Regions from separate parts of the Homo sapiens genome. Here region 1 is linked to region 2. The links come from fine-mapping of genetic effects on gene expression. A gene starts in region 2. The other region holds a variant in brackets. All regions are shown on one strand. Distances are from middle to middle.

Evidence for each region.
Region 1: its variant is fine-mapped to the expression of AMPD3 in blood mononuclear cells (TOPMed, PIP 0.96).

The regions. Positions count from the first base shown.
Region 1 is chr11:10,497,821-10,508,902 of GRCh38, reverse strand. It overlaps AMPD3 (adenosine monophosphate deaminase 3), which reads right to left. Exons shown (of 15, transcript NM_001025389.2): 11 at 8,654-8,817; 12 at 7,313-7,433; 13 at 6,009-6,182; 14 at 4,244-4,354; 15 at 1,324-3,195. The coding sequence ends at 3,019. It overlaps MIR4485 (microRNA 4485), which reads left to right and starts at 577; the gene lies at 577-633. It also overlaps the pseudogene MTRNR2L8. RefSeq lists an enhancer at 8,241-8,834. The variant G/C (reference allele first, on the strand shown) is at 5,844.
Region 2 is chr11:10,451,206-10,460,911 of GRCh38, reverse strand. It overlaps AMPD3 (adenosine monophosphate deaminase 3), which reads right to left and starts at 5,648. Exons shown (of 15, transcript NM_001025389.2): 1 at 5,464-5,648. RefSeq lists enhancers at 1,795-1,924, 4,724-4,773, 9,042-9,171 and a silencer at 9,602-9,706.

The DNA.
Region 1 (11,082 bases), 47 kb before region 2:
AGCAAAATAGTGGGAAGATTCGTAGGTAGAGGCGACAAACCTACCGAGTCTGGTGATAGCTGGTTGTCCAAGACAGAATCTTAGTTCAACTTTAAATTTACCCACAGAACCCTCCAAATCCCCCTGTAAATTTAACTGTTAGTCCAAAGAGGAACAGCTCTTTGGACACTAGGAAAAAACCTTGTAAAGAGAGTAAAAAATTTAATACCCACAGTAGGCCTAAAAGCAGCCACCAATTAAGAAAGCGTTCAAGCTCGACACCTGTCATCTAAAAAATCCCAAACACATAACTGAACTCCTTGCACCCAATTGGACCAATCTATTACCCTATAGAAGAGCTAATGTTAGTATAAGTAACATGAAAACATTCTCCTCCGCATAAGCCTACATCAGACCAAAATATTAAACTGACAATTAACAGCCCAATATCTATAACCAACCAACAAGCCATTATTACCCCCACTGTTAACCCAACACAGGCATGCCCACAAGGAAAGGTTAAAAAAAGTAAAAGGAACTCGGCAAATCTTACCCCGCCTGTTTACCAAAAACATCACCTCTAGCATTCTCAGTATTAGAGGCACCGCCTGCCCAGTGACATGCGTTTAACGGCCGCGGTACCCTAACTGTGCAAAGGTAGCATAATCACTTGTTCCTTAAATAGGGACTTGTATGAATGGCTCCACGAGGGTTCAGCTGTCTCTTACTTTCAACCAGTGAAATTGACCTGCCCGTGAAGAGGCGGGCATAGTATAACAAGACGAGAAGACCCTATGGAGCTTTAATTCATTAACGCAAACAACACTTAACAAGTCCACAGGCCCTAAACTATCAAACCTGCGTGAAAAATTTCGGTTGGGGCGACCTCGGAGCACAATCCGACCTCCGAGCAACACATGCCGAGACTTCACCAGTCAAAGCGAATTACCACGTTTAATTGATCCAATAACTTGACCAACGGAACAAGTTACCCTAGGGATAACAGCGCAATCCTATTCTAGAGTCCATATCAACAAGGTGTTAGCTGGACAGACTAAAATAATACCCCGGGAAAAGGAAAGGAACATGTATAGCTTTGCTCATGAACTATAACAGGGTAGAAGTTAGAGAAAATAACAAAGGAAGATTTATCTTCTGGGTCTGGTGAGCTTCAGTTTGAAAATTTTGAGTTTTCCTAGTGAATGTCATTCATGTCGGAGTCTTAGTAAAAGATAAATTAGCTATTATTATTGATAGCTTTTCATGGTGCCCAATCTTAAGAGTAAAAATCTTTAACATTTGCTTTAAATATGATTATCTTTAAATAGTTTTAAACTATTGAGCCACAGTCCTAGCTGACTTTATTTAACAATTTAAAAAAAGATACTTGATACAGATAAAATGACAATGAGAAACTACACAATACTTCCTATGTTAGGGCAAATGTATATAAACGGGGGCTTTTCAAAACTAATCCCTAAGATAACAATGGATTTTCATTCAATTTCATAATTAGCTGTAAGATAGCATATATATCTGCCTAGTAAAAAGACTGCATTTATACTTCCATATGCTGAATTGACCAGTGGAGGGGACAGGCATTATAAAGTCACAAGATGAGACAATCTAAAGTCAAATAAGTTCACAGGCAGAAACTGGATTCTTCTTCTAACTATAATGATTCAAAAAGACCTCCTGTAGTCTGAATTTGACCACAGAAATAGATAGGAAGGTCCTTGAGCAGCCTCTTAAGTACTAAGAGCACATGTCCTTAAAAAGTTGCCAAAAGAAATTCACTTAGTTATTCAATATGCATTTATTGAGCACCTACTACATACCAGGCACTAGTAACACAGATAAAGAGTACACTGATAAAGCTTAATTCAGATTAATCTTTAAAAATGCTTTCTACTTGGCCCCTGGGACCATTGTATCTTCTGAAGTCATCATAGTAGATAAGGGAGAAATTTTGCCTTAAAAAAATGCATCCGGTTACAGTGATTAAAAACACACACACACACACACACAACTAACATTTGTGGGGTCTAATGGAATAGTGGGGAAAAGACAGGATTTGGAATAAGGAAATCCAGTTTAGGCCTATTACTTATTAGCTGTGTGCCCTTAAGTTAAATTTCACTTATCTGGCCTAACTCTTAATTGGTAAAGTGATAATTGGCCTACAGTTGTAGCATATTAGAGCCAAAAGGAACAGAGATCATCTAGTCCTGTGCTTTTTGAAGTTCTTCGTTCAAATGAAAATATTATGTAGCAGCCCCAGTGTAAAACTGATGAACGCAGTCACTTTGACAGCCCCTGAGCATCACTCACTCCCTTCCCTCCCCTACCCTAAAGTATTCATGAGGAGATTCACAGAACACCCTGAAAGCCACTCATCTAGTCCAAACCCTCACTTTCTAGGTGAAGAAACCAAGACTCAGAATAGGAGTGGCTGTTTTCATGAGTACATTTGGCTTCCAACTAGAAAGAGGGAAGGAGGGCTAAATAAAACGGTTTAAGAAATTCACTAAAAACACAATTTGTCAAGAAGGAAGTCTTCCATCTTAACTCCTTCAAAGTAGCCCCTTTATGAAATGGAGCTTTGAAATTGATTGTGTTTAAGGCAGCCAGCCATCCAGAGGCTGAAATGAACAACTACCAATTAGCCTACCTGGGCCAATGGAGAAAAGTATGGCAGAAAACCACATGTTACTTGGCATCTGACCAGGGAAAATCCTGGCCCCAACAGTTCAGGCACTGGCAGTTTCAAGAGAAATACTTGGAAAATTAGGAACAAGTATAGACAAGTGCTCAGCTCCCAGATCCCCAAGGAGAAGTCACCATCTTGTTACTCAGAAATACTAACAAGTGAGCATGTTAACTCTTAAAGTGAGCAGTGCAACCAAAATCACCAGTTTAAAATTTCTTCAGAGGCATCCTCTTCACAGAGGAAAGTCCTAGTTCGGAATCTTGACCACTATTAGCCACAGCAGACTTGAAATTGAACCAAAAAGTTAAAATGCATGTCAAATGCTGGACCTAGTTGGTCAAGGCGGTGATCTCTTCTGATTTCATAGCATCAGACAGGAAGCTGAGCTCATTGCATAAGGTCTCATATCGGAATGCCATCCGGATCTGAGCCACATTTGTCTTTCGAATATCATTTCCTTCAGGTCCTTCTTTATAATAATTTTGTCCCAGAAACTTTTGCTTTTCCTGTGGACCAAGAGAAATACAAATGAAACTATATACTTTTGATTCACTTTCTATAGCCATGTGGGCAGCTTTGACATCAGTCACAGCAAGTCAGACTAGTCCCCCTGAAGCAGATCTTTGGTCAGGACATCTTATCCCCACAGAACTCTTAAAATTCCTGCTGGCCTCTGTGTCCTCAAGGATGTCACCCTGACAACCTCAGTCATCCTCAGACAGCCCTTCATTCCTGGCTGTGCTTTCCTTGATCAGAGAGGAAAGATAAGGTCTGCAGCAGCTGCTGGGGATGGGAAAGGCAAAGGGGAAGGAGGTAAGACTCTAATTAAGAAGCCCCTGAGAGCTGACAAGGACAATGTTCCTGGGGAGGGCCAATCCAAGGCACCACACTGCGCATGAAAAGAATCTTAAGCCTTTAACTCTGCTGCATCATCATCCGACGAGCACAGCCCCTAATGCAACCTCTTCCCAACCAGTGACATCACCCAGGGAGGTGTCGGGGGACCTAACGTACATCAGAACATGGGTCTCAGTGCCAGCTCCTCATCAGGCTTTTTAAAAAATGACAGATGTCTGAGTCCCATAGTCTAGATTTTTATTCAGTCTAGATACTGTTCATCTATTCAAGAAATATTGAGCGCCTGCTATGTGCCAGGGACTATCTAGGGCCCGGGGATATAATTCTGAACAAACCTCTGCCCTCACAGAGCTTACATGCTAGAGGGAAAGACAGAAAAACACATAACTAAACATCAGCAGGAATAAATGGTATGGAGAAAAACTGATTAAGGGGATAGAGAATAATAGCAAGTGTGTGGCTATTTTAGAATGGGCGATCAGGGAAGGCCTCTCCAAGGAGGCGTAGAGGTCTGAGAAGGGTGAGGAAGCAGCCATGAAAACACAGGAGGCTGCCGCGTCTTCTCTCCCTGTGCCTGAGTGTCTCAGAGGCCCTGCCTGCTATGTTCATCACAGATCCCCAGTGCCTGGAAGGCTCCTGGCACACAGCAGGCAGCCTTCCCAGGAGGGACACAGGCAGCACCGTCACACTCCATACCTGATGCGAGAGGCCGCTCTGCAGCACGCTGTTCCTGGCGATCTCACACAGGTCGCAGGTGCTCAGCTTCCACACTTGAGCTGCAATGGCATATTCTTCCATAAGTGCTTCCTAGATCCTCCCCCAAAGCATGTGGATTAGAAGGGGGGATATCCATGTCAATCGTTCACACATGTCCAAAGCTAACAACATCAGACACTGCGGGTTTAACTTTTCCTCACTAAATGGCACCTGGATCATCAAACATCACACCTTCAAAGCCTAAGATCTTTTCTTCTGTAAAATCATGGGTTATCAAAGAGAGATCTAAAATCACGCCTCTACATTTATTCATTGACCAGCACTGAGACCTCATGTTGAAACCCTGTGCCAGTCATCAGGGATGGCAGTCTCTGCTCTCCTGTGACAAGCCCTCTAGTCATGCCACATTTAGCACTTGCCCTCTAGCTTTTCTTTTTAACACACTATTTTCTTAAGTTTGCAATAGATAGATAGATGATAGATAGATAAATAGATAGATAGATAGATAGATAGATAGATAGATGAGTAAAGTACTAAAAGCAGAGATGGAACATCAAAAAAAAAATGAGAAGTGATCATAGGATAAGTGGTAAAATGGTGTAATCCCAGAATGATCTGGGTTTGAGCTGTGGTTTTGCTTCCCTTCTGGGATGTGAAGTGTCTATTCATCACAAGCCGTCTGTGACCTCTTCCCCACCCCACTGCCGCTGTAGCCTAGAGCAATAGTTCTCGAAGTACAGGTCAAGGACCCCTGAGGGTCCTAAGACCTTTTGAAAGGTCTTGTCTTTTCCAATTATGTATTTTCATGAGGCAAGATTTCTATTTTTACATATTTTGATTAAAAACAAATTGAATGCAGAAGTGGCTAGAAGAGTCCTGCTGACTTCCATTAAGACATTAAAGAGGCTTAAAAATGCAAAACAAAGGCAGGGGAAACTGTTACTTTTCAGAAAAAAAATCATTATTATGTAACATTTCATTGGTTTATTGATGTGGTTTTTAAATGAGATAATAAATATTTTAAAATTTCTTATTCATTTCTAACATGGTAAATATCAGTAGATATAACCCACATAAACAACAGGTCTTTGAAAGCTTCAATTCTTAAGAGTATAAAGGGGTCCAGAGACCAAGAGGTTGGAGAACCTCTGTCCTAAAAGACTCTGGTGCTTCTGTTTTTGTTAAGCAATGGCTGGTCTTGTCGACACCATCAAAACATGCTGGGTATACTTGCGGCTAGTCCCCATGCATGACACCACTGTTAGCTTCCTCTTTTATTTTCCCAGAGACCCAAAGTGTAGAAATTATAATAGCATTGATTTAAAAAGTAGCAACCATTTTGAATATATGCAGACACTATGTTAGAACCTTTGATTCATTATCTTCATGAATCCTTACAGGGTAGGGACAGAGAAAATTTTATCTCCATTTTACAGATGAAGAAGAACTTGATCCAGAAATCTAATAACTTTACCAAGGTCACAGAGCTCATAAATGTCAAAGAAAGAGAAAATAGAGGAAGGCAAAGATACTAAATTGTGCCTTTGAGGGTTCAAGAACCCCAAAGAAAGGGCTCCTG[G/C]ATGGCACAATTTTCCCCCAACAGTGGCTTCCTTCCTGCCTTCACTGGGCCACCAACCCCACCCCAAAAGCAGAACTAAGCCATGGGCTCAGGTTCCTGAAATGGGAGGACAGGCTAGGACTGGTGCCTACTGAAGCACTACTGTCCTCACCCCAAAGTCCTTACCTTCGTGTAGTGGAACTGCATGGGGTCATCGGTGGAAAGAGAAACATGCAGTCCCTTGTGTAGGAATTCCCTCAGAGGGTTCTTGGAATATTCGAGGAACAAACTGTTGTTGCTAAGAGGAGACATGGCAATGGGGATCTGAGCAAGGTAGTAGAGATACTGCAATACCGGACTCTGCAAAAGAACCACCGAACTCATGTGACAAGTGCCAGAGAGGGGAGAAGGGAAAAGGGAAGGGAGAAAGGAAGGGAAGAAGCATTCACCAGTGGAAACCAGGGGTCTGAACCATGTCTGCCCAAGTCCTCAACCCGAGTTCCTCGAAGCCAGGACACTCAGACCCACTCTCCCCTTCCCCACTGTTCATCTCATTCCTACATTGCATGCCAGCCCTCCCTGGTGCCTCTACCCACTGTTGGAAGTGCTCATTCTTGCTCCAAACTGGAGGCAAGGCTCAGGGCAGGAAGGGCAGCCCACTCCAGCCTACACCTTCAGCTCCTTTCTCCTAGGCACGGACCCAGTCTAGAAGATGCCCCCCTCTAGCTGTTTTATTGCTTTGACTGCAAACAGCCAGGTTGAGACTATAAACACTCCAGCTCCTGGGAGATGATCCCTGAAGGGATGGGAGGGGTGGACCTGCCCAGGATAGAGTGGTTTTCTACTGTAGCACCCACCCCACCCAAAAATGTGACCCATGGTTACACCTCACCGGGATCAGGGAAAGGGAGCATTTTGATCAAACATCGTGCCAATGGAAAGTGATCCAAAATACGGAGAAGACTGTATGCACAGAGCTCAAGGGTACACCAGTGAAAAGGTGGATGGACTCTGTGCCCAACTAGTGTGGACTGGTTGAGTCAATTACAGACAAAGTGGCAGACCCTTCATCCAACAACAGCCTTTGGAAAAAGGAGCATAGATATTACGTTGCAGCATCAAAAAATGCTTGTCATACAACAGTAAGGGACGAGGCAGGAACCAAATTCTGTGTTCATTATGATAATAAACACATTAAAAATATGCTGTGGATAAAAGATGGAAATTAGATATACTAAAAAGCTAATAATGGCTATTTCTATTAATGTAATAGCATAAGGGCTGGCTTTTTTCCATTTCTCCAGTTTTTGGAAAATCAAAATTGTGATGAGTTTGATTATATTACTTTCATAATTAAAAATAAAACCAAGATAAGGACAGACATCCCAGCCCAGAAGAGGGCCCAGCCTTCTGGCCTCACTGGTTGAGCCTCCCAGGAGCCCAGGGCAGGGCAGTCACTCAGGACGGGCTCCCGAGAGTGACCTGGTTACCTTCTTGAGGAGCAGCCCGTGGGAAATGTTGTCAGCAGTGAGGAAGGCAGACACCAGGTGGGTGATGGAGCCGGCTTCCCCACAGTGCGGCCGGAACAGGAACGTGCTCAGGCCGCGCTCCCTGTAAGAGAAGGGGTTTCCGAATCAGGAAGGCCCCCCCCAGTTGGCTCTGCCTGGGGCCTGCAGCCACAGCTCAGGGCCAGCTCCGGGGGGAATGACCACCCATGGTCAGCTGTGCTGACCCAGTGCACCCTGGAAACTACCCCTCCTAAAATGCAGAGGTCCAGGCCCTGGGGCCCCTTAGAACCAAGAAGCATCACCTCTACGGGCAGAGAGTGGGCCTCGCAGTAGAAAGAGACCCTGCTGTGCCCTCCAGCCACTCTCCTGAATTCCTCTCCTGGCCTTGTGTCCCGCATTCGTAGAACTCCAGAGCAGGGAAGGCCATGAGAAACCACAGAGTCTGACCTCTGTGTTATGGAAATGGGCAAACCAAGGCCCGGAGAGTGAAGTCTATGTTCCATGCCACTGAACAGGTCAGTAGCAAAGCCAGAACCAGAGCCCCCATCTCCAAAAGCTCAGCCCAGGACTGCCTCCACCCTGCCAGGCCATTTCTTTCAATCAGGACCCCATTCGAAACCTCCACACCCACCAACTAGCACCAGTTTAGGCTGAGCTAGAGAGACCCCAGGGCCCAGCAGGGGAAAGTGGGATGCAAGACTTGTAGGGAAGGGAATGGCTCAGTGTCCTGCTGCCCTGGGCAGCTAACTCCTGGCCACGTGTGCCTCGTCTGTGTGCGTATTGGTAGGAGCCTCTGCCTGTAAGGGCATGCATGGATTTAGTCTGTTTTGTTCCCCGTTATTTGTCCAGTGCCCAGGGCAATGCCTATCGCATGCCAGATGCAGTGATTTGCTGAACGAAAATATGCACGTGTGGACATTGTTGGTGTGGCAGTAAGTGACCGTGCATGTGTGATAGCATGTCCTATGCTTCCATTATCTCAGGGATGTACAGGTACACGTGGAGTGTGCCCTGGTGTGTGTACATATAAATGTGTGGACACGTGTGGACTGTGGCTGCATTGCATACTGTACATGACATATGTCTGTACTGGCATGTGTGTTATGGTGGGCATGTTTGCATGTGTGTGATCATGTGGAGACATGCCTCATATAGCAGGCTGGAAAGTGCTGTGTGTTTTGAGGTGTGTGGGCACATGGACATGCATGTTGGTTCAGGTGCACACGGACACAAGGATCACATGCATGTGTGTGTGCATGTGTGTGCATGCGTGCATGTACTAACACATGAACCCAAGCATGTGCGAGGGCAGGCCTCACGCACCTGCGGAGGTTGTTGAGCACCATGATGTTGGCATACATGTAGTACAGGTAGTAGCTGTAGGGTGGGTTCTGCTCACTGGTCCAGACGTCCGGGTTTGGGCTCTTGTCGGAAAACATGTGGTCGCTGTGCTTGGACTCATCATCCACGCTGTCAAACCCCGTCACCTGGGCAGGAGAGGTCCTGAGCACCAGGCCAAGGCAGGACCAGGACTCAGCCTCGGTTCAGCCTCCCAGAGCTCATAGCTGCCAGAGGCCTGTGGGTCTGGGCCCCTCAGGTTCACACCTCAGCTGGGGACCCCTTGGCCTGCCTGAGGCCATATTCCTCCCAGGGATGAAAAGTGGGTACAACACCAAGGTCTGCCCCTTCGGAGCTTCCATAGGTACTCTGGAGGTGAGACAGGAGAGTGCCAAGCCCCTGTGTGGTGGTGGTGACAGTGGAGGAAACTGCCAAGCCAGGTGAAGGGCAAAGCAGCCATGGCCACCACCTGCCCCTCTGCTATGCCGAGGCCAGCCTGCAGGGAGGAGTGGCCATTGCCATCAGCAGCAGCGACAAGCGATGAGGGAAAAGGGTCCTAGTACACATCACTCATCAAGCCCTGCTCAAAGCACTTTACTCACGTCAGTTAATTCATATTCAGAGCAACCCAGGAGGGAGGGGTTGGCTGCCAGCCCCATTTTACAATTGAGCAAACCAGGGCCAAAGCAATTAAGAAAGTTGCTCAAGAAACCAGGTTTGGCCAGACATGATGGCTCATGCCTGTAATCCTAGCACTTTGGGAGGAGGAGACGGGCAGATCACGAGGTCAGGAGTTCGAGGCCAGCCTGCCCAACATGGTGAAACTCCGTCTCTAGTAAAAAAAAATACAAAAATTAGCTGGGCATGGTGGCGTGCACCTGTAATCTCAGCTACTCAGGAGGCTAAGGCAGAAGAATCACTTGAACCCCGGAGGTGGAGGTTGCAGTGAGCCGAGATCGCACCAGCCTGGGTGACAGAGCAAGACTCCATCTAAAAAAAACAAAAAACAAACAAACAAAAAAAACAGGTTCTGGGCTCTGGGTCTGCACTCTTTGGGGCGGTAGGTAGAGAATACTCTAGGGCATGTCCAGGTGTGGCCAGGAGAAACCCGCCAGCTGCCTCACAGACAGATAAGAGGGTCCTTGCTGGGCTAAGCCATGGCTCCTGGGAGGCAGCTCTGCTCTCCAATCCCCACTGGGAGCTGCCCTCTGAGATGGGCCTGAGTAGCCTCAGGAAACCCCCACCCTTCCACTGCAGTTCTACCTTGGCTGGGACCCCTGGGGGGCTGCTCCTGAGTCACTGGAGCCTTCTGGCTGATCCCAGGGGTCATCCCCAACCAAGAACACATGCATGGAGGGTACGGGCTCTCAGCGCACAGGGGAGGCTTGCTACCAGGCCACGGCAGTGCTTTGCAAAGGGGCCTCTGAATAGCAGATGGGAGAAAGAGACTGTCCCCCTTAATCCACAACTGGCCCAAACTGGAGGGCTCCCAGCCCACGCCCCAGACCCCAGCCAGGTCTGCTGGCCTCTCCTGTTCCTATGGGGGCAGCAAAGGCCCAGAGGAGCAAGGCAGCTTGGCCAGAATCTTCCGTGTCACAGAGCCCTGTGTGTCAAAGGAAATGACAGGGTCCCTGCTATGACCCTAAGCACTCCCTAGACGGGTTTGGGGGGCCAGGGAGGACCTTGAGCTCTGCTCTGTGCTCACTAGCTCCATACTTCACCCGAACTTTCTGGGGCCTGGCATGCGGATAATTTCAGCCCCTCTTCAGAGCTCTATCCAGCTGAAGCAGGGCCTCACCACTGCATCTCCCACAGCCTCGGGTGCAAAATGCGTTGTCTCCTCCTCCTGCTCTTCCTCCTCCTCCCCATACCTGCTCTTCCTCCATTGCTGGCAGCAACCTTCGGACAGCACATCATCCATGCTCCTGCAAAGCCAGGCACCTGGGAGGCATCCTAGACTCCCCCCAGTGCCTCCTTCAGTCTCTGTCCAGGTCCTGCCAGGTGTACGCCCACCGCTTCTCACCAAGCCCCACACTTTGTGCAGAGTCCCTGCGCTGCCACACCTCAGAGACGCAAGCTGGTAGCTGCTGTGCACCTTACTATTCTCACTTGGGAGGCAACATAGAATAGGGGTTCAGGGTACATCGCTGGAGTCAGCCTGCCTGGAAACGCATTCCAGCTCTGCCACTTTTAGCTTTATGATCTGTTTTAATTTCCTTGTGTGTCAATTGAAGCTAGCAGCTTCACAGGGCTTTGGTGAGGATTAAATGAGATAATCCAGGGAGAGCACTCAACACCGTGTCCAACACGCACCAAGCACATAATAATTCCGCTTACTGTTAACAACAAAATGGTGATAGTAACGGGGTAATTGTGAGGCTTAGGTGAGATCACGTTGTGGCGTCTGACCAGGC
Region 2 (9,706 bases):
ACACTCTTTACCCAGCTGAAAACTCACTCCCTCAAAGAAGCTTTCTCTATCCACCTCCTCGCATACTGATTCCTTACTAACAGTCACTGGCCTCAACCACCTGCTTGGTTGGTTGGGTTTCATTCTTGCTTGCTTGCTTTCTTCATTTCCTTATTTCTTTCCTTTTTTGCAATTACTTGTATAGCACTTAATATGTACACTCTGGCCAGGCGCATTGGCTCACGCCTGTAATCCTAGCATTTTGGGAGGCTGAGGCGGGCAGATCACCTGAGGTCAGGAGTTTGAGACCATCCTGGCCAACATGGCAAAACCACGTCTCTACTAAAAATACAAAAAAATTAGCCAGGCGTGGTGGCAGGCACCTGTAATCCCAGCTGCTCAGGAGGCTGAGGCAAGAGAATTGCTTAAACCTAGGAGGTGAAGGTTGCAATGAGCCAAGATTGAGCCACTTCACTCCAACCTGGGTAACAGAGTGGGACTCTGCCTCAAAAAAAAAAAAAAAGTATACTCTGGGGCCGGGTGTGGTGGCTCACGCCTGTAATACCAGCACTTTGGGAGGTCAAGGCAAGAGGACTGCTTGAGCCCAGAAGTTTGAGACCAGCCTGGACAACATGGCAAAACCTCATCCCTAAAAAAGATTTAAAGAATTAGCCAGGTATGGTGATGCATGCCTGTAATCCCAGCTGCTAGGGAGGCTGAGGCAGGAGGATCTCTTGAGCCAGGGAGGTTGAGGCTGCAGTGAGTTATGATCGTACTACTGCACTCCAGCCTGGGAGACAGGGTGAGACCTCGTCTCAATTTTAAAAATAAAATATATATATATATATAAAATATATATTATATATAATATATATTATATATAATATATATTTTATATATGTATACATACATATATATACTCTGCAAAGAACTTCATACTTATTAACTCAGTTAATCTTATTATTCCCACTTGACAGATGAGAAAATGAAGGCATAGAGAGCTAACATGCCCAGGGTCACACTTTTAATAAGTCAGCAGAGATTTGTGCTGTTCTCAGCCTTTCTCTCTCATCCCTTTCCTCTCTGATCCTCAGCTCAGGGATCTGAACCCAGGCACCTGGTTCCTGCCTCTGTCCCCTCACCCACCATGCTGTGCTGCTTCTCTTTGTCCACGTATGTGTCCGGGCAGGGGCTCCTCACAGTCCCCAGCATAACACTTGTGGAATGGATTAATACTGCACCCTTTTCGACAAGCCACCCTCGTTGGGAGCAGCTCTGGAAGAGGAGTTTCCCATCTACCTATGACCACAGTTTCTTTAAAGTTGGTTTAAAGAGAGAAGTGGTTTTGTGGACCAGACAGACAAGAATGGAGATGAGACAGAGCCCTGCTGCTGTCCAGCAGGGAGAAGTGCAGCTACAGGGGAGGGGAACACACTAGGCCATCTTGGGACAGTCATTCTCCGGCCTCACAATGTTCTCATCTGTGAGATAAAGGGATTGAACTAAGTGGTCTCTAAGGCCCTCTCAGCTCTAAGTGGCATAATTCTAGGTACCAGAGAGATTTCCGGTGCCTGAGGAGGGCTTGCTGCTCTGAGTCTGAGTGGCATGTGGGACTAAGTCATGACACAGACAGGAAGGAAGAAAGCAGGCTAGCAACAGGCAATCAGAGTGAGGTCTGTGGCTCCCTTAACTCTGAGACCCAAGGACCTGCCACTCCCTGATGAGAGGAGTGGGAGGGAGCTGGTGGGGAACAGCCTGTCAACACACAACTGTCTGGGGAGCAGACATCAAGACAGCGAGGCCTGGCCTCTGCAAAAAGGAAGAGGAACAGAGCTGCCTGTGGGGATTTCCATGTCTTGATAGCAGAGAGGGGGGAAGCTGGAGGCCATCAAAGGAGGTGACAGGGGAGAGAAAGTCTGGAACAGCACAAAGAACCAGACCCAGGAGGCTCCATCAGGCTGAAACGAAACTGGATCCTCACCTCCCCCCTTATTCCAAGGCCACCAATCAAGGGCACCATCCCAAAACCTCACATCGCATCTCAGAAGAAGATATGCAACCCAACAGCCCAGGCAAAAGGCCGCAAATGCCATAAAGCACCATACCATTTGACTAAGCAACTTTACTTCTACAAATTTCTTTCAAAAAAAGAATCCTAAGAATGAAAAGCACAAGGATATTTACCTGCATTATTTACATAAATAGCTTTAAAATGCCTAAATTAGAGCATACTCACTTGAAAAAGATGTTAAGTAATCAGAATTATGATTATGAGGATGGTGCAATCACATAAAAAAATAAAAATACAGTAAATGAAAAAATTAATACATAGAACCATACCCATGCTTTATTTACAGTGAAAGGAAAATGCATCCCTTTATGGGCAAGACCTGCAAGAGATTCACGCAGTCAAAATGACCAGGTGGCAGGGCTGCCTGTGTGTGAGAGGATATTTTATTTTGATGATGAATGCTATTATAATGCCATTTTTAACAAATACAAAGAGAATAGAAAGAAAATGAGTAGACTTAAGACTCTATGAAAAGAGAGAAAAATAGGAAAACAAACTTCTTTTTCTGGCAGGTTTTGGCAATTAGGGCTCCCTCCTTAATTGCCGAAGGGAGGGAGGGAGGGAGCATCACCATACCTGGCTAATTTTTTTTTTTTTTTTTTTTTTTAGAGATGAGGTTTTGCCATGTTGTCCAGGCAATTTGGGAGGCTGAGGAGGAAGGATCACTTGAGGCTAAGAGTTCAAGATCAGCCTAACCCACACTATTGAGAGGCCAGGCCAAAGGGAGTTTCACCATTCAGACCTATCTCTGTGTTAGCTCCTACCCTGGACAGAAGCCATCCACCACCAGCAGCACCTTCCTACCTCCTTCATGCCCTCAGACACACACAGGCCTGACCCAGACACCCCCAACCAGGCTCCCTTGGCAATGGGTATTTGGGTGGGAGGGAAGTCCTTGATGTCTGAGGGCTCTTATGCCAGATCCTGCCATGTTTGCTCATGAAGCATGCATTTATTCATTGATTGATTGAGAGACAGGGTCTCAGTTGCCCAGGCTGGAGTGCAGTGGCACAATCACAGCTTACTGCAGCCTCGACCTCACAGGCTCCGGTGATTCTCCCACCTCAGCCTCCCGAGTAGCTGGGACCACAGGCACACACCACTATGCCTGGCTAATTTTTGTATTTTTAGTAGAGATGGGGTTTCACCATGTTGGCCAGGCTGGTCTTGAACTCCTGGTCTCAAGTGATCCGCCTGCCTTGGCCTCCCAGGGTCTAGGATTATAGGTGTGAGCCATCATACCAGCGCACAAAGCATTTTTAGCTTGCTCTAATCAACTAAAAATACTTTTCAGGACACAGCTTTCTATAACATATCTTCCTTTCTCTTTAGCTTAAATCAACCTTTCCCAAACTGGATGCCATAAGAAATTGATACCTGTTGCTGGTAAAACAGGTCCTGTGGTCAGTTATTGGGAGATGTTGCATTCCACAGCCCCTCAACTCACATTCATAAGGCTCATTAAAATCAAGGATCATAGAGTAACATTAACATACAGAACCCTTTTTGTTTTACAGAACCCATAAAAATCTTCCGCAGAACTACTACCAGTGTCTTAAATAGTTGGTAGATAATTCATTCCAAGACCGGGTGCAGTGGCTCATGCCTATAATCCAAGCAATTTGGGAGGCTGAAGAGGATCGCTTGAGGCCAGGAGTTCGAGATCAGCCTGGTGCAATATGTCAGAACCTCATCTCTACAAAAAATAGAAAAAAAAACAGCCAGGTGTGGTGGCATGCACCTGTGGTCTCAGCTATTTGGAAGGCTGAGTTGGGAGAATTGCTCGAGTCCTGGAGGTGCAGGCTGCAGTGAGCCATGATGGCACCACCGTACTCCAGCCTGGGTGACAGAGCAAGACCTTCTCTCAAAAAAAAAAAAAAAAAAGCAAGAAACAACAGCAACCACAACAAAATAATTAATTCCATATCTTAGTATGGACCAAGTAACCCACTTGGGGTGCTGCAGGCCTTAGCAGCTGCCCCCACATCTGCTGCCTTCTGGATGTCCTTGGCAGACAGCTCCCACCTGCCAACCCGTCCCTCCAGAGTGTCTCTCCTCTCAGACCCTCCAGACACCTGCCAGGCCAGGCCTGACAAGGAAAGCTCACTCTGCAGATGCCAAGCAGAGCTTCAGCTCCAGCTGCATGTTCACGCCTGGCTTCCAACCCTTTGTCAGCTGAAGCCAGCAGGCTTGGGAGGCTTAGCTGTGAATTCACCAGCATCAGTCAGCCAATGATACAGCTTATCTCACTGTTACATGCAACACGCTCTGATGAACTTGAAGAAGTGTCCCAAAGTTAGAAAGTTCTAAAACACTGCCAGTTTCAACAAACAGTAACTTTTCATGGTGCCACAGTCCCTCCAGAAAGGAAGCCCAGTGCCACTGAAATCCCCTCGTTATACGAAGGAAGCTGGTTCCTACTCTTGCCAGACTCCCCTTGCAGAAGCCCCGACACAGACCTGAGCCTGGCTCCATGACTGGTCCTGAAGATGCCACTCAAGTGATGCACCCGGGTGAGGTGCTGCCTGCCACCCAGGAGGCTCAGCTGAGTCAGTGCGTGCGTGCAGCTGGCTGGGTCCTGTCTGCCGGCTGGAGTAGGAGGTCTCTGTTTTGCATATCTGTGAGCAGCAGTGAGCCAGAGCAGGAAAAGCCTGGGCTGGAAATTCTCTCGTGAATATGAAATATGAGTGGAAAATTTCCAAGAGCCCTGAAGTCCCCAGGTAATCCCAGTTATCCAAAACAAAATGGCTGTGGTATCCTGAATGCAGTGTCCTGGCCCTCTTCACAGCCCTCACAAGAGGAAACTAAAGCGGCGGCTTCCTCTTTACAACAGTAAACTCAGCCGTCCTGCCCAGCTGCAGGAGATAAGCCACAGCCTCCCTCTAACGCCCAGCCTCCTCCTGAAAGCTGAGTAGCAACGAGCGATATCATCACCTTTGCTGCTTCCGTTCTGAACGTGCTTCAGGCCTGGCTGCATTTTATCAAGGGGATTGGTCTCAGGTACAGCCCGACCTGCCTCTTCTCAGAAAGCCCCCCTAAAGCAGCCCTCCCAAGGGCACCCCATAACTGCCAGGGGGAGCTTCAATCCCAGTTGCTAATACAATCCCCTCCATCCCCTCCTCCTCTGAAAGGGAAAGACCATGAACTGCTTCCACCTTTCCCAGGAAAGGACAGAGACTCAGGGAGCAGGAACTGCCTCAGCACAGAGGCGGACAGAGGACAGGGGCAGGCTAGGATGAAAAGCTGACAGCCCCATCCCACTCCTTCCTTTCTTCCCAGAAGGAAGCCCACATCACAGGTGACTGCGAAGCCTGATAAGCTTTACCAGAACCCCCACCCCCATCCACACACACAGAAAAGGAGTACACCCCAACTGACCCACCGGAGCCCACCCCAAACCCTCCCCTGCTTACAGCCGCTCACTGCTCCCACGTGGGCCTCCAGCTCCGAGCGCTGGCTGGACTCTGCCACTCCTCCTGGGGAAGGTGGAGCCTGCCTCAAGTGACCCACAGGAGCAATCCTCTAAAACCAAGCAGGGTTGATTAAAATGGCATCACAGGGTGCAAAGCTCTGATCTTCATCTGCCCTTTAGGAGAGTGGGAAGGCTCAGAACAGACACATAGCCTCCCAGTGACTTAGGCAAATCCTGTGGTCCTGGGAAATAACCATGAGCAAAATGGCTATTTCTGTGGTGCTGTTGAAATCCTGGGGAGAAGAGCTCAGGAAGGATGGGTCAGTTGTTTACCGGGAGGCTAGCTGTAACCCTGACTTGGGCCTGAGTCACCTCCGCATGTCCAATCGTGAGGTTGTGTCTTACTGAGCTCACATCATAATTCCTGTGTGCACAGAGCAGTATTACAGGGTTGACACATGATCCTCGGGCTGCTGCTGGGCTTTAGCTACCCAGAGATTACGGCCCACCTGTCCTCACAGCTGTTTCATAAACAGTGCAACCAGCAGGCTACAAGCAACCTAGAGGGAGGGTAATATTTATTCATTAAACAATTAAATGAACTTACAGTATGAGAAAAAAATCCAAGCCCTTAGTACTATTCTGCCAGAAGGAGGAGGGGCAGATGACTTTTTCTGCTAGTGTTTTGGGGAAAGGGGAGGTAGAGTGGGGACTGCAGTGGGAGGATTCCAGCCCAAGGATTTAAGTCCGACACGTTCAGGGAATTTTATTCTGCACCTTTAACCGGATCCCAGCTAGCCTTAGTCTAAACAAGCATTTTTCAAAGTGCAGTCTGCAGAACATGAAAGGTCAGAAGGCTTGGAAAACACTGCATCCTGTAGTCCCTTATGGGTATTCATGCACAGTTTCTACTAGCAAATTCAACACCTGAGAAGTCCTGCAGTAAAGAAAGCTGCTTAACTTTGTTTAACCCGACGCACTTATTTGACCATCCTAGAACTGCTGTCATAGGAAAAAAACACCTATTAATATCTTGTGGTATCGGCTTTGGGAAACACCCTCCACCTTGAGTCTTCATTTTCCAACTTAGAGAAAGCTGCCTTCCTGGAGCCCAGTTTACAGGTATGAGACCCATTGCATCGGGTTCAGACAGAAACCAGCAGCAGCTCCACTAAGATGACACAGGTTGTAACAATGACCAAGGGTCCTGCTGAAGCCAAAAGGCGGGAAGACTCCCCAGAACATGGGCAGTTTAGAAGAAAAATACAGTTCTGTCCCAGAAGAGCAAGCTCTTCTCAGGACCTCACAATTCCACCTTGAGCCTAACTTGTTGCTGCTTCTTGCAGCCAAGATGTCTCTGTGGACTGAAGAGCACTGATCCCAAGCTCAAAGCCTTATTTCCCTTTCGAACAAACATCAAGACAATTTATGATAACCAGATACAGGGCCCGCTTCTCCTGCCCGAGACTAGACTGCATCCCCTTTTATCACTTAAGCACCCCTTACAAACTCTAAAAGACAGGAGAGGACGGAATCAAATTATGTCTCATCAAGAAAGATATCGGCCGGGCATGGTGGCTCATGCCTGTAATCCCAGCACTTTGGGAGCCCGAGGCAGGTGGATCACAAGGTCAGGAGATTGAGACCATCCTAGCCAACGTGGTGAAACCCCATCTCTACTAAAACACAAAAAATTAGCTGGGCATGGTGGTGCGCACCTGTAGTCCCACCTACTTGAGAGGCTGAGGCAGGGGAATCACTTGAACCCAGGAGGCAGAAGTTGCAGTGAGCTGACATTGCACCACTGCACTGCACTCCAGCCTGGCGACAGAGCAAGACTTTATCTCAAGAAAAAAAAAAAGAAAAAGAAAAAGAAAGATATCACTCTCCTCCCCAAAAGCCAGGCATGAGCTTGCATAGAGGGGTTCATTTTTCTTCTCATTTGTGAGGTGTGTGTGACTCACACAAGGAGTTGGACAAAGGGGATTCACTTGCTAAATACCAGCTCCATGACAAATCTCGCCTGTCTCATTCACAGTTGTATCCCCATACCTGAAATATGGTCGACATTCAGCAAGTATTTGTTGAATGAATGAATGCATAAAACAATGAACAAGTGAACTAGCTATTTATAATAGATCAATCCACCTATGGCAATCTCAGGAATGAGTAGAGTGTATGGCTAAAAACGTAGACTCAGGCTGAGTGTGGTGGCTCACGCCTGTAATCCCAGCGCTTTGGGAGGCCGAGGCGGCCAGACCACTTGAGGTCAGGAGTTTTGAGACCAGCCTGGCCAACATGGGGAAACCCCATCTCTACTAAAAACACAAAAATTAGCCTGGCATGGTAGCGGGCGCCTGTAATCCCAGCTACTTGGGAAGCTGAGGCAGGAGAATCGCTTGAACCCGGGAGGTGGAGGTTGCAGTGAGCTGAGATTGTGCCACTGCACTCCAGCCTGGGTGACAGAGTGAGACTCCATTTCAAACAAACAAACAACAACAAAAAAAACTCCAGCTAGACTCCCTGCATTTGAATCCTGTTCCACCACTTAGTTGTATGACCTTGGGCAAGTTAAATAACTTTTCTGTGGCTCGGTTTTATTCCCTATGAAGTGTGGATAATAAAAAGCCAATCTCATAGGTTGCCATGACAATGAGCATAAGTGAAGTGTTTAGACTGGTACCTGGCATAGAGTATGTGTTTTATAAGCATTATCTGCCAACATCATTGTCATCATCATTATGATATCAGATACGAGAGAGAAGAACTAGGAAAATGAACATGAAGTTTTATCTAGACACTGAATCCTTTTATTCAACCTTATTTATTGAGCACCACCATGTGCCTGGCACTCTCCCAAGTTTCTATTACCTGGGTGCAGGAAGAAGGAAAACATATTTAAATGTGAAGCCAGATCAGGAGGAGGAACATCCTTCTCCCCTATGAATGGTACTTCTCGGTGACTGTACACAGCCAGGACTCCAGCCATGAGCTCATCCTCCCATGCCCCAGTCAGTTCCTTACAAATCAAAAGCCCAAAGCAATTGTCTGTTGTCCTAGATATGCAACCAGCATACAGAAGAACTAAGAGATTATTATACTTGGTGGAAGAATCATGGAGGCCAATGGGCAGCTTTAGGGGAGAAAGGGTATCTCCCTGTTAACCCGAAGGCTACATGTTATCTGCCCATGACATTTTCAAGACCTGAGACAGATTTTGAGGCCATTTGAAGAGTGATCCAGTCAGTGTAGAGGCAAAAAAAAACAACTACAAAAAACCTCATCTCTCAAAGAGCTTCTTGACCTAGCTGAGAGCTAGGAGAACCTTAGAAGACAGAGGCTGAGCTAAGGATGGGACTGAGAGGTCAAAGAGTCTCCCAGCCACCACCTATGCAGGTGTCATTATTCCTAGAGAGGGCAGCCCCATACCATCATCCTCAGAGCAAGCCAGGCCCCATGAAGCTGCAGCCAGGCCAGGCCAACTACCCCAGACCTGCTGTCAACACTCCTAGAGGTGTGAAGTGACAGAGGCTCTGTCTGTCTGGCTCAATGGCTCCACTAACACTCGGCCTTAGTGCTGCACAGCCAGGGAAAGAATTTCTCCTCTGCAGGTTCCAGCTGCAGGCAGCTTTTCCATGAAGATGGCCAAATGTTGGTCACTGCATCCTGAGGGAAAGCCAACAGGGGCTCAAGACCATGCTAAAATCCCTCCTTGTGCTGCCTGCTTTCACCCAGCTCCTTTGCTGATGTGTCGCCATCAAGCTTTCAGCCACATACAGTTTGGGGAAATGATACCCTAGTTAGCAAGCCTCTCCTACTCCAAGGCCTCTCAAAACTCTCCCCAGGGACCTCTGCCAGCCTACAACAGCCATTAGCAGCTCTGCTGGCAAAGCAGCTACCAGAAGATCAAGGGCAGAAAGCAGACTGCCAGAGCCCAAGGCTGTACACCTCCCTTGCCGGGAGAGAGCCAAAGAGGTAAGGATGAAGGCCTCAAACGACCTCATCACCCTATCATCCAGTGCATCCCTCGCCTCCAGGTAGAAGTCCACCTCAGCTGTCCACATCCAGCCAGTCCTCAAGCACCTAGGAACTTTGCCCAGGGTGGCAAGTCCCAGGTCCCTTAATTTCTCTAAACCTTGCGATTCCATTCTAGGCCGCCAGGGAATCGGGATGCTGCCCGCTCACCTGAGGCCGCTGGGGCTCGGGCCACCGCAGAGGCAGGGGTAGGGACAGGGACAGGAACA